4 linked regions of the Homo sapiens genome follow. The protein of the gene in region 4 purifies or fractionates together with the protein of the main gene of each other region. This does not show direct contact. Each region holds a gene or a part of one and is shown on either strand. Other genes may lie near its edges.

The links. The genes of interacting proteins can lie anywhere in the genome.
Region 1: the proteins of KHDRBS2 (region 4) and FBXO11 purify together in Homo sapiens (affinity purification with mass spectrometry; one large-scale study listed by BioGRID and IntAct). This does not show direct contact.
Region 2: the proteins of KHDRBS2 (region 4) and ACAD11 purify together in Homo sapiens (affinity purification with mass spectrometry; 2 studies listed by BioGRID and IntAct, with this or other methods). This does not show direct contact.
Region 3: the proteins of KHDRBS2 (region 4) and PTER purify together in Homo sapiens (affinity purification with mass spectrometry; 2 studies listed by BioGRID and IntAct, with this or other methods). This does not show direct contact.

Annotation. Positions count from the first base shown.
Region 1 is NC_000002.12:47,829,999-47,833,498, forward strand, and holds part of FBXO11 (F-box only protein 11), read right to left. Parts: intron 3,073-3,500; coding exon 2,966-3,072; intron 2,883-2,965; coding exon 2,771-2,882; intron 2,681-2,770; coding exon 2,574-2,680; intron 2,489-2,573; coding exon 2,351-2,488; intron 1-2,350. UniProt on the Homo sapiens protein: Substrate recognition component of a SCF (SKP1-CUL1-F-box protein) E3 ubiquitin-protein ligase complex which mediates the ubiquitination and subsequent proteasomal degradation of target proteins, such as DTL/CDT2, BCL6, SNAI1 and PRDM1/BLIMP1.
Region 2 is NC_000003.12:132,649,810-132,653,309, forward strand, and holds part of ACAD11 (acyl-CoA dehydrogenase family member 11), read right to left. Parts: intron 1-3,500. UniProt on the Homo sapiens protein: Acyl-CoA dehydrogenase, that exhibits maximal activity towards saturated C22-CoA.
Region 3 is NC_000010.11:16,482,010-16,485,509, reverse strand, and holds part of PTER (N-acetyltaurine hydrolase), read right to left. Parts: intron 2,373-3,500; exon of another isoform or gene 1,576-2,372; coding exon of another isoform or gene 1,561-1,575; intron 1,174-1,560; coding exon of another isoform or gene 1,126-1,173; coding exon 694-1,125; intron 1-693. UniProt on the Homo sapiens protein: N-acetyltaurine hydrolase that regulates feeding by catalyzing the hydrolysis of N-acetyltaurine into taurine and acetate. N-acetyltaurine has anorexigenic and anti-obesity effects that are dependent on GFRAL receptor and GDF15.
Region 4 is NC_000006.12:61,978,726-61,982,225, forward strand, and holds part of KHDRBS2 (KH domain-containing, RNA-binding, signal transduction-associated protein 2), read right to left. Parts: intron 1-3,500. UniProt on the Homo sapiens protein: RNA-binding protein that plays a role in the regulation of alternative splicing and influences mRNA splice site selection and exon inclusion. Binds both poly(A) and poly(U) homopolymers. Phosphorylation by PTK6 inhibits its RNA-binding ability.

The DNA of each region.
Region 1 (3,500 bases), on a different chromosome or scaffold from region 4:
ACAAAACCACGGAGACATGGTAAGGAACACAGATTTGAGGAACTCACACAACACTAAACAGAACAGAACATAGCAATATAAATAACCAGAAAGATAGCTAAGTTTCTAAAGAAAGGAACATATGGAACAGAAAAATAGTAAAACAATACATCAGCAAAAGCCAAAATATGGATACTGAGGTAGAAGAGCAATCTTTCAAGCAAAGAAGAAAGAAAAAAACCCAATGTGATCTCAGAGTTCTCAGCCATGCTCAATGCTACAATAGAAAAATGTCTACAGAATCGTGAGGGAAAGAAAGAAACTCAGCTAAGTTAAAAGGCAATGGATAGGGATTCTCGCATGGCAAGAATTCAAGCTACAATATCCATAAGGCGTTCTTTAAAAAAAACAAACAAAAAATGGCTGGATGACAAAACCTAGCCATACCAAGAATGAATCAAAATTTAAATTCAAGAATGGAGAAACGATGATAAAAGAACTAATGATAAATAAATAAAGAATAAATATAGACCAATAACTGTAGGAATGCAAATATTTTAAACCTTTGCAAAATAAAAATAAAAATGATGGGGTGGAGATAGATTGAAATACTTTATAAATCTTAAAATGTATAAATCTCATTAATCCTTAATGGAAATATCTATCTATAGCATTGTCTAGACTTATTTTTAAAAATGCTGTGATATTTACAAGCCCAAATCTATTCTTTAAAATGGTATAAGGAGTGTGTGTGTGATGAGGAGTAACTTACTATGGTGAACTTTAATAAGGGACCATCCCATCACCAGAGGTCTTTCAAAAATGATGAACTTGGCCAGGTGTGGTGGCTCACGCCTGAAATCCCATGCAAAGGCACACATCTTACATCTTGGCTCACTGCAACCTCCGTCTCCTGGGCTCAAGTGATCCTCCTGTCTCAGCCCCCAAGTAGCTGGGACTACAGGTGTGAGCCACCATGCCCAGCTAATTTTTGTATTTTTTGTAGAGACAGAGTTTCACCATGTTGTCCAGGCTGGTTTTGAACTCCTGAGCCCAAGCGATCCAACTGCCTTGGCCTCCCAAAGTGCTGGGATTACAGGTGTGAGCCACTGCACCCGGCCATGGTCTAGTTTAGTTTAAAAAAAGAGCTCTGCCTTGGCCAGGCGCAGTGGCTCATGCCTGTAATCCCAGGACTTTGGGAGGCCGAGGCAGGTGAATCACTTGAGGCCAGGAGTTCAAGCCCAGCCTGACCAACATGGTGAAACCCTGTTTCTACTAAAAATACAAAATTAGGCAGGCGTGGTGGTGCATGCCTGTAATCCCAGCTACTTGGAAGGCTGAGACATGAGAATCGCTTGAACCAGGAGGTGGAGGTTGCAGTGAGCCAAGATCACACCATTGCCATTGCACTCTAGCCTGGGCAACAAGGGTGAAACTCGGTCTCAAAAAGAAAAAAAAAAAAAAAAAAAAAGAAAAATGAAAATAAAAAAATTTCTTTGTATAGATGAATCCAACATTCCCAGGATTGCTTAATATTGTATAATAGGCAACAAAACCTCACCATAATCCTATTTGCTACAATGTGGTGACCCTCTCTCCCATCTTGGACTCCGCAACAAAAAATTTTACCAATGCTGTATTAGGACTTGAAAATTACCTCAAGGAAAATTTGACATTAAATGAAAAAAAATCTGAAAAGACATTCAAAACATTATTTTGAAATGGTGATCTCAGAGCTCAAAAAGTCATGTCTCTAGAAAATTATGTAAAACTATAAGGTAATACTTAAAACACAGTATATTCCATAAGGATGCCTAATATTAACTGCTGCATAATGGTTTTAAAATTGGTATTTTATCAATGTATCTCCTATTAAAGTTCTGCCAGTTTAAAATTTTCAAGAGGAATTAAATGAAAAGCAAAATAACAATGAAACCATTATTTCTCAAAGTATACTCTACAAACTGTGTTAGATTCACTTATGTTGTTTATTAAAAATACATATTCTAAGCCCCATCCTTGGAAATTTTGATTTATTAAACTGGAGGATACAGGAATTTTCTTTAAAACAGAAAGCTTTTGGGTGGCTTTTATGAACACACATTTGAGACTTAATTAACGAGTTATACCTTACTCCCCTCAAAGATCACATATATTGCCTAAGAACGCTATCACCTCTACATGGATATGTCTGATGCATAAATTTACAGAATAAATATTTCATATTAATTTTAAAAAATAATGCTGAAATTGCTTTTAAACCTATACTCTTCAATTCAGATAATTTGGTGATGAGAAAATAATGCTGAAACATACTTGGAATTTAACTGATACAGAAGTCCGTTTTTCTATTAAAAATAAGTGTTCTTACCATGCCATGATCAAATGTGAACACACCAACATCACGTCCATGATGAATATGATTCCGTCTAATAATTGGGTTTCCATGATTTTTAACCCAAATCCCAGCTAACGCATTATTGGAAATTTCATTATCCTCATATATTCCCTACAACAAGTTATCAGAAACAAACATCAGTAGAGCTTTTAAACATTTTCTAAAAAGAAAAAAACCACACAAAATTAAAAAATACCTGTGCATGATCTGTTATATATAGTCCAACATTTTCACAGTCACTGATGTTACAGTGCTTGATGGTGGGACATGCTCCTTGACCACTAACACATACTGCAGAACCAACTGTAGAAAAATTATTTATTTATGTAAAAACCTACTGGGCAACATACAGTGACTCAAAATTTTATTGTAAAATATAAAGAAAACACTAACCTGTACATGTACTTCGGATGATACAGTGATCAATAATAGGGCTACAATTTACTGTAATCTCTAAGCAGTGGTGTGCATTGTGGTGTTGTGCAGATTTGTCATCAGGGTTAAACTGAAAAGTAAAAATTTTGTTTGAAATAAACAATTACTGCCTTTATGATTTCAATGTGTATTTTAAATCTTAACATGTCTTACCCTTATTGTCATATATCCAACATAAGCATCTTCAGAGCCTTCCATAAAAACGAAGGTTGAATCTCTAGTGTTTTCAATTATAACTTTGTCTGCCACTTTCCCAGGTGCTGTGGAGAAGATATTTTAAAGAATATTACCTTTATTCGATTTCAACAGATGGGTATCTTTATGGAGGGGGAACTTACTAAAAACATTAGTACTGAGTAGTGGGACTAATATTCACTATCAGTTAACTATGTTTCATCATCAGCCTTTGCTATATTCAAATCCATGCACAGTATTACTTCTAATAACATTTAACTATAAATACTATGAATATAAAATGCAACGGCATATTAAAAAATGGTTTCTTGTGGAAACAAAAACAAAAAATGGTTTCTTGTGGAAACCATTCTGTTTCCAGCAGCAGCACTGGAAACAGAAGCTCAAGAAGAGAAGAGACCTCTATTTAAATTTATTTCCAACAGTGGCCTCGATTTAGAAAGTAATAAAATCACCAGACAAACATTTGCTCTAATCTATTCTCCCCATCTTC
Region 2 (3,500 bases), on a different chromosome or scaffold from region 4:
TTACAAAATTGAGTGAGCAATGATGAAGGATAACAACCAGCCCGGCAAATTTGAACTCACGGGCATTCCTCCTAAACCCTTTGGATTTCCACAAATTTAAATAACTTTTTATATTGATGCCAACAGCATCTCAAATGTGTTTGCTGTTGATAAGAGATCAGGAAAAAAGAAGATTAAAAGACAAATGACCCAGTGTTTGCCCATGGAAACACTGAGTATTTGGTCCAAGAGGCATAGAAGTACAAAGCTGGAAAACGAGAAACAAAGAGACAGAGTTTCTTGTAAGAAGTTGCTCAGATCCTATGTATTCAATAGGCCACAGTGAAAAATGAGAGACGGCAAAGCAGAATCAAAGATGAAGTCAAACACAAGACTCCTGACAAGTGCAATGGAGTCATCAATGACTGGTCAAGAATCTCATTACTGAGAAGGAAGAATTTAACATCAGCCAAAAGAGCTGGAGAGGGTAAAAACCCTGCCGTTATCACAGTGTAACAGAGCTAGCACCATGCTAGGTGCTTTGCTAGGGACTTCCCTAGAAGTGGTTGCCCATCCTCTAGAGGTGTGTCTTCTGGAACCATGACTACAGAAACAGAATAAGGCAACCAAAACTCAACATGAAGTTTGAACATGAACACACAGTCATGAAATCCTACTCTGATTTGTAGGAAGTCAGTTTAGTGACAGTTTTTTTAAAAAATCATACTTGGGCTGCTATTTCATATATTATTAGACATTTTGAATATCTGAATATACACAGGGTAAGGAAATACAGTTGCACTTTATCCACATGATAAATAGGTAGAAAGTACAATTCATGATAGAGGACAAAGGCTTTTAAAGTTGGCATCACTAAAAAAATAAGAAAAACAGTGAGTCCAGACTACTTAACTTAGTGTAAGACTGTCCCTCCCCAGCCCCAATACATACCTACAACTTCCCATTTCCTATCACTGACAGCACTACTACCTTGAGACCACCGGAACTGGTTTCATTGTGTTCTTTATCCCTCTTTATATCATCAATACCAGAAGTCCCAAATTCCCCTTTTATACTTGTTTACTGCATTGTAATTCCCATAAGGCTCTGCACATTCCCTATTTTCTCCCACATCTTCTCCACCCCCTCAACTCCTGATATCCTTCCACTGTGCCCCTGGAACTCACAGTCTTTCACAATTCCATACAGCTTCAATATCTTCTCTGAATAGACCCTTCACCTCCTTGCTCTAACTAAAACCTGAATATTCCATGAGGATCCTGTTTCCTTTGTAGGCTTCTTAAGTGGTAGATGTTTTTCCCACATCAGTCTTCTAGTAAGCCTGGATGGAGTCTGTATCCTTCCTGAAACTCATTGCTACTTCCAGACTCTTTGCTCTCCCTCCTGTGTAAATTCTTCCCTCAGCTTTGAATCTCAGGCCATGAGACTCTGCCACCCTCTACCCCTTTTTCTTGCAGTCACCTACTAACTCTCAGATCATTTCTCCTCATTTCTTAAGGATCTTGGCATAATTCACTATTACTCTCATTAACACTACTCCTGTCTTAATTACTGATTTCAAAATCTACACAGATGTCCCTTTTAACATTTAGGCCCATCAGTTCCTTGAATTTTCTCCACCAGTGATATTTTCCTTGACACTATCTCAGCCAGTAATTCTAGGAGTTACACCCTACACTTTAGCAATATCAACAGTAAAAGCACTGAATAATCCTAGTTTCTAAACATTTCTACCTCTAACCTCCTACCTTTCCACTCACTCCTGCTAGTGCCTCAATTCCAACAATCCTTCAATCAATACTTGACCTACCATCCATTGATCATACTGCCATTCACCTCATATCCCCCGACCATATCCTTTGCCCAAGACTGTGGGAGCCCACCTCTTGCATCACTGTGACCTGGATGTGAACATGGAGTCAAAGGATATCATTTTAGAACTTTAAGACTGTCCCACTGGATTTTGGACTTGCATGGGGCCTGTAGCCCCTTTTATTTTGGACAATTTCTCTCATTTGGAACAGGTATATTTACCTAATGCCTGTACCCCCATTGTATCTAGGAAGTAACTAGCTTGCTTTTGATTTTACAGGCTCATAGGCAGAAGGGACTTACCTTGTCTCAGATGAGACTTTGGACGGTGGACTTTTGAGTTAATGCTGAAATAAGACTTTGGGGGACTGTCAGAAGGCATGATTCATTTTAAAATATGAGGACATGACGTTTGGGAAGGGTCAGGGGTGGAATGATATGGTTTGGCTGTGTCCCCACCCAAATCTTATCTTGAATTGTAGCTCCCATAATTCCCAATTCCCATGTATCATGGGTGAGACCTGGTAGGAGGTAATTGAATAATGGCAGTGGGTCTTTCCTGTGCTGTTCTCATGATGGTGAATAAGTCTCATGAGATCTGATGGTTTTATAATGGAGAGTTCCCCTGTACACATTCTCTCTTGCCTGACTTCATGTAAGACATCCCTTTGCTTTTCCTTTGTCTTCTGCCATGATTGTGAGGACTCCCCAGCCATGTGGAACTGTGAGTCCATTAAACCTCTTTCCTTTATAAATTACCCAGTCTCGGGTATGTCTTTATTAGCAATATGAGAACAGACTAATAAATCTTTCCTTAACTAGGTTAAATTTGATAGCAAATCATATAACCACTACCTTGAATACACCTTCAGTATACTTCACTTGCCCTTTCCTCACTTCATGGTGTTTGCTTGGCAAAACTCCCATCCATGTTAAATCCATTTTTTTTTTGCTTACACTGATATAACTGGCCATAGCTGAAGAAAGACACATACAGTCATAATTACTGTTTTAGGTTAGGTTCCCAATAAACAGATCATGAGAAAAAAAATTATATACAAGTGACTTATTAAGGAAATGTTTGGGGAACTAATAAGAAATTTGGGGAAGCAGGTCAAGAAAGGGGAGAAAGCTAAGCAAAGGTGTGATCTAAGACAAAGTCCCTTAGAGGGTAGCTTCAGCCTGATCTCACCAGTGTGTAGGTGGGGGTAAAGGTAATGGGGGAACTCTGCCGTGTCAAAGTTCAAAACATGTCTCTGAAGCAAGGATAATGAAAATTTCATACTTCTGAATCACTATTGGTTAAGGTCCACCTCAGGTACTACAACAGTAAGAGCAAAGGGTGCTCCAATAGCCTGAGGGCAGTTTACCAAAAAAAGAGGCATAGATGCTGTTTATTGGAAGCAAAAACCAACAAAGGCAGGACATGTACAGCAACACTAGAAAGGGATCCAAGAGGATCTGGACAAAGCATTAGTAATATCTACTGAAATATCTATTCTTGCTTCAAATTCATGACCTCAGCAAACCTCAAAGTGAACCACATCTGGCAATCATATTTCCTTAGCTCATTTATTCTCCCATTCTCTTGGATGGCTGTTTCATAATTCTCTCTCCTCAAACCTCAAACACTTTCTTCTCCATCTTCATTCTCAGCTAATTAATTACCTAGGTTCCTATTTCAACGA
Region 3 (3,500 bases), on a different chromosome or scaffold from region 4:
AATGGAAGATACATACGAATATATACATATATGTGTAAACATGTATAAATAGATACATGTGTGTTTAGAAAGAGAACACATACACGTGCAAAAAAGGTTTTGCACCTTATTCTTTTTGTCCCTAAACAATTTACTTCCTTCTGCCCATTCTTAAGACCATATTATGACAAAACACAGGGGAATGAATTTTCTTCCACCTCTCCTGTTTTGTGAAAGGAAACTGAAACATATTCACAAATGTGCCAAGTCTTTGACTGCCAAGTTTCACCCTACAGTGAATCTTCATTGCTGGTTATTATAAAATCCAGGGTGAAAAAAAATCGAGGTAGCATAACTTAAGATGGAAAAGTGAGGTTTACAAATAGACTGTGGTGCCAATACTGAGGACAGATACGATACACACAAATCTAACTATTATCACGTTGGATTTTGCAATGACCAGTGCACTAAGATCTCTTTCCTTGACACTTATTATTATTATTTTCTTTTTTCTTTACCACAAGGCTTGCTTGCAAAATTGGCACTTTCTTTATGAAATACAGTGTTACTAACTGGGGCCCCAACTGGCAGATGTCTTTGCTAGCTAGCAAATTTCCGTAGCATGCCCAGCTACCTCTGAACCCAGGGCATTTCCAAGGTTCTGGCTGTTCTGAATTTATGAACAAATACTGTCAAAGAACTTAGGCTTTTTACCTGCTCCACTGACATGGCCCTGGTCTCTGAGGAGTGAGTTGCATCCACATAAAACCCGGCTCCAGATATGATATGGACGCCAGTCTCTTCTGCAAGCCTCTTCAACGTCTGTGTGTCTCGGCTAATCCCAGTGGTTGTGTTTTCCACCAAAGCCCCTCCACCATTAGCTTTAAAATACAACAGTTCTTCCTTTATGGCTTCTGTCTCCTGATTTAATTGAAGGTTTTCTTTATGGGAATAGGCGTTTTTCTGAATCCAATATAAATTTTTCATCACGATAGGTTCTTTGGAAATAGCTTCCTGGCACGGGGGAGGTGGACAGTAACAGCAGTCAAAGGTCATGGCCAGGTGTTCATGGGTCAGGGTACGGCCCAGTTTGCTTGGCTCTACAAGGCCCAAAACGGTTTGGACTTTTCCACTTAAGGAAGACATTTCTGATGGTACCACCAAGAGATGTTCTAAAAAGAGGATTTCTTTTTTCTAAAAACAAACAAACAAACAAACAACTACAATCAGAATATTTAACACACACATAAACTCTTGTCCGTAAGGGGTGGGAGGCTGTGAACATATACCCATGTAAGAAGGCAAATCAATAAAACTAGAGATACGATCTCACAATCCTGCCGACTTCAGAATCTATCCCCACTGCAGATCTAAGTGACGTGCGTGGTGTTAATTGCCTCCCACCCCTTCTACTGGGAGTCCTCTGCCTGAGTTAGTCCTAACCTTATCTACTGGAAATATTCTTTGATATTCAGTTCACTTTTCTTTAACTTAATTGTATCTCTTAATCATAGCTATGCATTCTTGGATAAATCAACAGTAATTGTAATTAAAAAAAAGTATTCAGAATCAATAACTTACATCCAAACTAACCATGTATCAGTACTGTTTCATTTGTCACTTTTTAGCTAAATTAAATATCCTGAAGCAACTGATCTTTCCTCCTTTTTTTTCTTTTTGAGGGAGAGTCTTGCTCTGTTGCCCAGGTTAGAGTGCAGTGGTACGATCTCAGCTCACTGCAACTTCCGCCTCCGCCTCCTGGGTTCAAGGGATTTTCCTGCCCCAGCCTCCTGAGTAGCTGGGACTACACGCATGTGTCACCAAGCCTGGCTAATTTTTGCATTTTTAGGAGATGGGGTTTCCCTATGTTGGCCAGGCTGGTCTTGAACTCCTGACCTCAGGTGATCTGCCTGCCTCGGCCTCCCAAAGTGCCTGGATTACAGGTGTGAACCATCACTCGTGGCCACAACTGATCTTTCTACTGTTCCTCCACTACCCAAGCAAACAAATTTCTGTTGAAGGTCCATGATGTGTCAGAAATTAGAGCCATAAAGAAACAAAAGACAAGATCTCTGACTCACACGACTTCATAGAATATGCCCCTCCCCAAAACAACTGAGGAGCACACTCGGTTGAATAATGAAATAACAACAAGAAACGAACCTCTTCAGGTTGAATGCTTGATTGTCTAGGGCACACAGAAACACACTTCAAAAATACTGAAAAGCAAAGATTCTTAGCCATAATGAAAGCGATTGTGATTTATTGAAACTGAAATCGGCTATCTCTAAAAAGAGCAAAGCCCTCTCTATCCTCGATTTGCTTTCATTTGTAGCACAAATTAAGTGTTCACCAATGTCTATCAGTGATACCAAGAACTCCAATTCCAGTACTTTCCTTTAAAAGTACATTTCCTTTTAAAAAATTTGTTTAAATTAAAAATTAAATGGCCAGGTGCAGTGGCTCATGCCTATAATCCCAGCACTTTTGGGAGGCTGAGGTGGGAAGATCACATAAGGCCAGGAGTTTGAGACCAGCCTGGCCAACATGGTGAAAACCCGTCTCTACTAAAAATACAAAAATTTGCCAAGTGTGGTGGAGCGTGCCTGTAATCCTAGCTACTTGGGAGGCTGAGGCAGAAGAATTGCTTGAACCCAGGAGGCGGAGGTTGCAGTGAGCCGAGATCGCGCCACTGCACTCCAGCCTGGGAAACAGAGCGAGATTATGTCTCAAAAAAAAAAATTTTAAGTACATTTCCTAAATGAAGGGTTTATAAAGGAACAAGAGCTACTGAAAATAGTGAGGACAAACTCCTGCATGGCCAAGAGCAAAATCAGGACTCGAGTCCCAGACTCTGGGAACTGAAGAAAAGGAGCATCACGTGTTTCCAAGCTCTCAAACTGTTCCTTCAAATAGTGTTCTGAAGTCATCATTTCCCCCATATCCCTTGAAAGCCTTCTTTGACTTCCATTTTTGTCATCTGTAAATTAAAATAACGAAGCACATTTCATAGACTGTCGTAAAAATAAATTAGATACCACAGGTAAAAATACCTGTAGATGCATTTGGCACGCAGACCATATTCAACAAATAGTAGCTTTGTTTTGCGAATTCTAGGAACTATTCACGTATATCCTAGATTATTTCTTTTCAGAGAAAGTGGCTGATGAGAGGGGAGATGATTTGGGGGAACAAAGGGGAAAATTTGTGAAGGGTATAGTACACACGTAAGACAAGGTGAAAACAACATCAGAGGTCAGAGGGTGACAGAATTGTAGGCCAATTTATAGCAAGCCACTGCAATTATCTGGAACTCAGGTGTTTGCGATATATTGGCTTATAAGGCATAAATGATGGATTTAGACTTTTGGACAGAACTTAGGACTTGTGGCTAACATGGCCATTGATTTTGTTTGATAGTGCCTTTCTGGAAGCCAAACTTCTATCAGCTAGGCAATTCAAATGGTGGCTAAGAGAAAAGCAGGCAGTGTCTCTTCAGAGAATCACCACACAGCTGCCAG
Region 4 (3,500 bases):
CCAGCCCAGATTATCAGCAAGCCTTATACCCACAGCTTTTCTATCGCTTGCTGCCTTTATTTATTTATTTTGTCAACAGGGGAATATTAAAGGGTGGTTTAACATTTTGCTGGCATTGATTCTGCATGGGCTACGTAACTTCTGGTTAACCAATAATACTAGGTTGGTGGAAAAGCAATTGCCATTAATTGCTTTTAATGGCATTATTTTTAATGGCAAAAACCATAATTGCTTTTGCACCAACCTAATACATTTCTATTGGAAGAGACTTTTCCTAGTATTGTGCCCAAGCCATTATTGAAACCTGGTTAATTCAGTGCAGGTGTACAGCAAATCAATATGTGATCCATATATTTTGTTAATGTATACTAAGTATTTTATACATATCATCTCTAATCAAAATCATTTTGTACATATTCACATGTTTCAGATTATGAAACTGTGGTTAGAAGACTTAAATAGCTTCAGCCAATTCAGATCCAGACCCAGTTCATTTTGCAAGCAGATTTGCATTTTTTAGAATTTCAAGATGTAAAATGTGGCAGAAAAGTTAACATAAATAACATTAATTATGTTTTATCTTTCTTGTCCCTCACAGAAACAACCAGCAGCTACTTCACTAAATTTCAAAAAATAAAACTAAACATGTAATTCTTGGTTTTATGTAGAGATTAGAGACATGACATGAATAGACCTTACCTGGATTTAAAAAAGAACAAATTTGCTGTTGATGTCATGTGAGTTAACTGTATAACCCATGTTAATGTGAGTGTTTACTTGATTAGAAATGCTCATTGTTTTAAAAGATGAAGGATCCATGAAAGAGATGGGAAGGCATCCCTGCGTTCCTGTATATATACCCTTCACCTACTCAAATACTTCTGATAATAGCACCTTGCAGCCTGGAAATCCATTCTTCACTTCTCTAAGGATACTTTCAAACTCTACCTAGGACTTTTCAACTTGAGAGCTTTTCTTAGTGCCCAATTATCAGTTTGGGGAGGAGAGGCAACACTACACTGAATGAAAATACTCTCATGAGGTGTAGTAAAGATTTCTTTTCTCTTTGGGTCCTGCTAAGGTGCAAGCTGCTTGTTTATTCTGGGGCCAGCTGGTTTGGGCATACATGCTGAAATAATTAAATCAGAGATTTCTTGACACTGTCCCTTTCTATTACTTCCTATGTTGATTCCCATTCAGTTATTTTTGTGTTACCCTCTCCTTACACCTAGAATTTCCTAGGGAACTGAAATAATTTTCAACTCTATTAAGCAAAATAATATGGTCATTGAGTGACATTTCCTAGAGTGACATGACTAGCTCATTATGGAGCTCAATAAAATAAAGAAAACAGCAGTTAATTGACCCTACTCTCCTTGGAAGATCATCATTTGCTACTTGGGATGACCCTTCGGAATCACATCTTCCATAAGCAGTGTATCCAATAATTTTATAAACCCATACTGCTCTTTGTAGGAAGATTATTGTGCAGGAAAGTGATCTAAGTTGTCAAGTTAAGAATAGTAGCTACCTGCTTTTTGTATTTTTATGAAGAATATATCATAAATTGTTCATAATCTAATGTGGAACACATATTCCTCCTTTGTTCTACTCCAGGTGCTGGTATTTTGCCCTTCTAGATCCTCCTGTGAGGCATCACACCATCACCACCACCACCAGAAAAATAACTCCTGAAAGTTTAGAATGTTAGTGGGAAATAACTCTTATATTGCATTGATATGAAAAATTGTAGAAGTTTTATAGAAAATAAGTCTTATGTTGCCTGGTCAAAGCTGGCTACATTTGAATGGGTTTCTTTATAAAAATTTGTTTTAATAGACTTGTGATCTGAGGGATCAAAATTGATGCCCATTTATCAAACAAGATGGGCCTAAGGCTAAGGAAACAAAAGTTACTTAGGAGTCCAGTGTTCAGGACCCAGATGGCATGGCAAATTTCCAAATTCCTACCACTATAAGGAAAACTACACCTCAGCTAAACTTCTTAACAACAGAGCTCTCAGGCTGATTTACAGCCCAAACCACCACAACTCTGCAGGACAGAGGACTGACTTTACAAATATTCTTTTCTGATTAGCTATTGCAGAACTTAAGCCAGTTTCAGCCAGCTTATAGGGACTGCACACAAACTGTCTTTGTGTACTACAGTTCACCTTTTGACATAAAGAGCTGAATTCCATGTCATTTCAATGCTAAAACCTCACGTCAGAGTGAACATGGGATGTATGTTATACACATGTTTACCCACTGGGCATGCCCTCTCATAAATACATATAGCTTTTCCCCCAAAACATGCTGAATATGTATAATACAGGCCCTGTGAGGCATAAGACCTAACCTGTCATTCCCTTCTTTAAATAAAGAGCACCTTAGATCCACACTGGAGAGTTTCTCTTCTCAATTTGCAAGTTAATGCCAATAAAGCTCTCCTTTCTACTATTTAGCCATCCTGGTGGTCTTTCAAATGACAAAATGTATATCAAAAGATTACTGATTCAAAACTAGAGTTTGGTTTTTCTCTGTTAAAACAACAAAGTTTTCTTGGATTACTGGTCTGCCCTTAATAAGAAATTATAAAACTTTTTCTTTACCTGTTAAGTAATCTGCCTAGAAAACATTCTGTGTCTTATCAGAATAATTTCCTACGCTTTATGTTAACATTTATCACATCTTTAATTATTTATGAGAACCAAGTCCTCTCACTTAAAAAAAAAAAACTGAGTTTTTTTTTAATTTATTTGTTTGTTGTTGCTGTTTTTCTCTCTGCAAGTATGTTACCTCGTATACTTACTTTTGAAATCTTGTATTGTCACTTAAGTAAGTGGATAACTAAAGTATTGTTTCACAGTGACCTGTGATCCTATTTAATGCAGTGTTCAATCTTTTGACATTTTTGACAATTTGCAAAAATCAAATTCTAAATGAAGTCTGCTTGACCCCAAACCAACTTAGATTTTTCAGAGAGCCCCTGGAAAATCTCTAAGGATTCATGTTCTCTCACTTTGTAAAAAGAGAGATGTTAAACTAATTAGGTTCATTTGATATGTTAAAATGTATGGGAAGCATTGTCAAATAAGAAGAGTTACTTAAATTTCCTTATATTTGTATGGGTAGATTTTATTGTTTCAGAAATTTTATGAAGTTCCTAGGAATTGGTCAATAACCTTGATCTCCCTGATACGTCCTGGTATAATGTAGTCAGTCATAATTCTATGATTTAAATTCCATAAATTAAATATTGTATTCCACAGAAACCACCAAAATCCTTTGTCAACTGTGTTATAATGAATTCACGTCAGATATTTAACATAGCCATTTTAAGCTTTTTGTCATTCATAGGTAGTTACTATTAATACCAAACTAAGAAGCAAATGCTCCACTCAGATGTGGCTGATGACAACAGTGTCAAATTCTTGTGAATTATGTAATTTACCCTAGGTAATGTGATGAAGAAATAAAGTCACTGCAAATATATATATA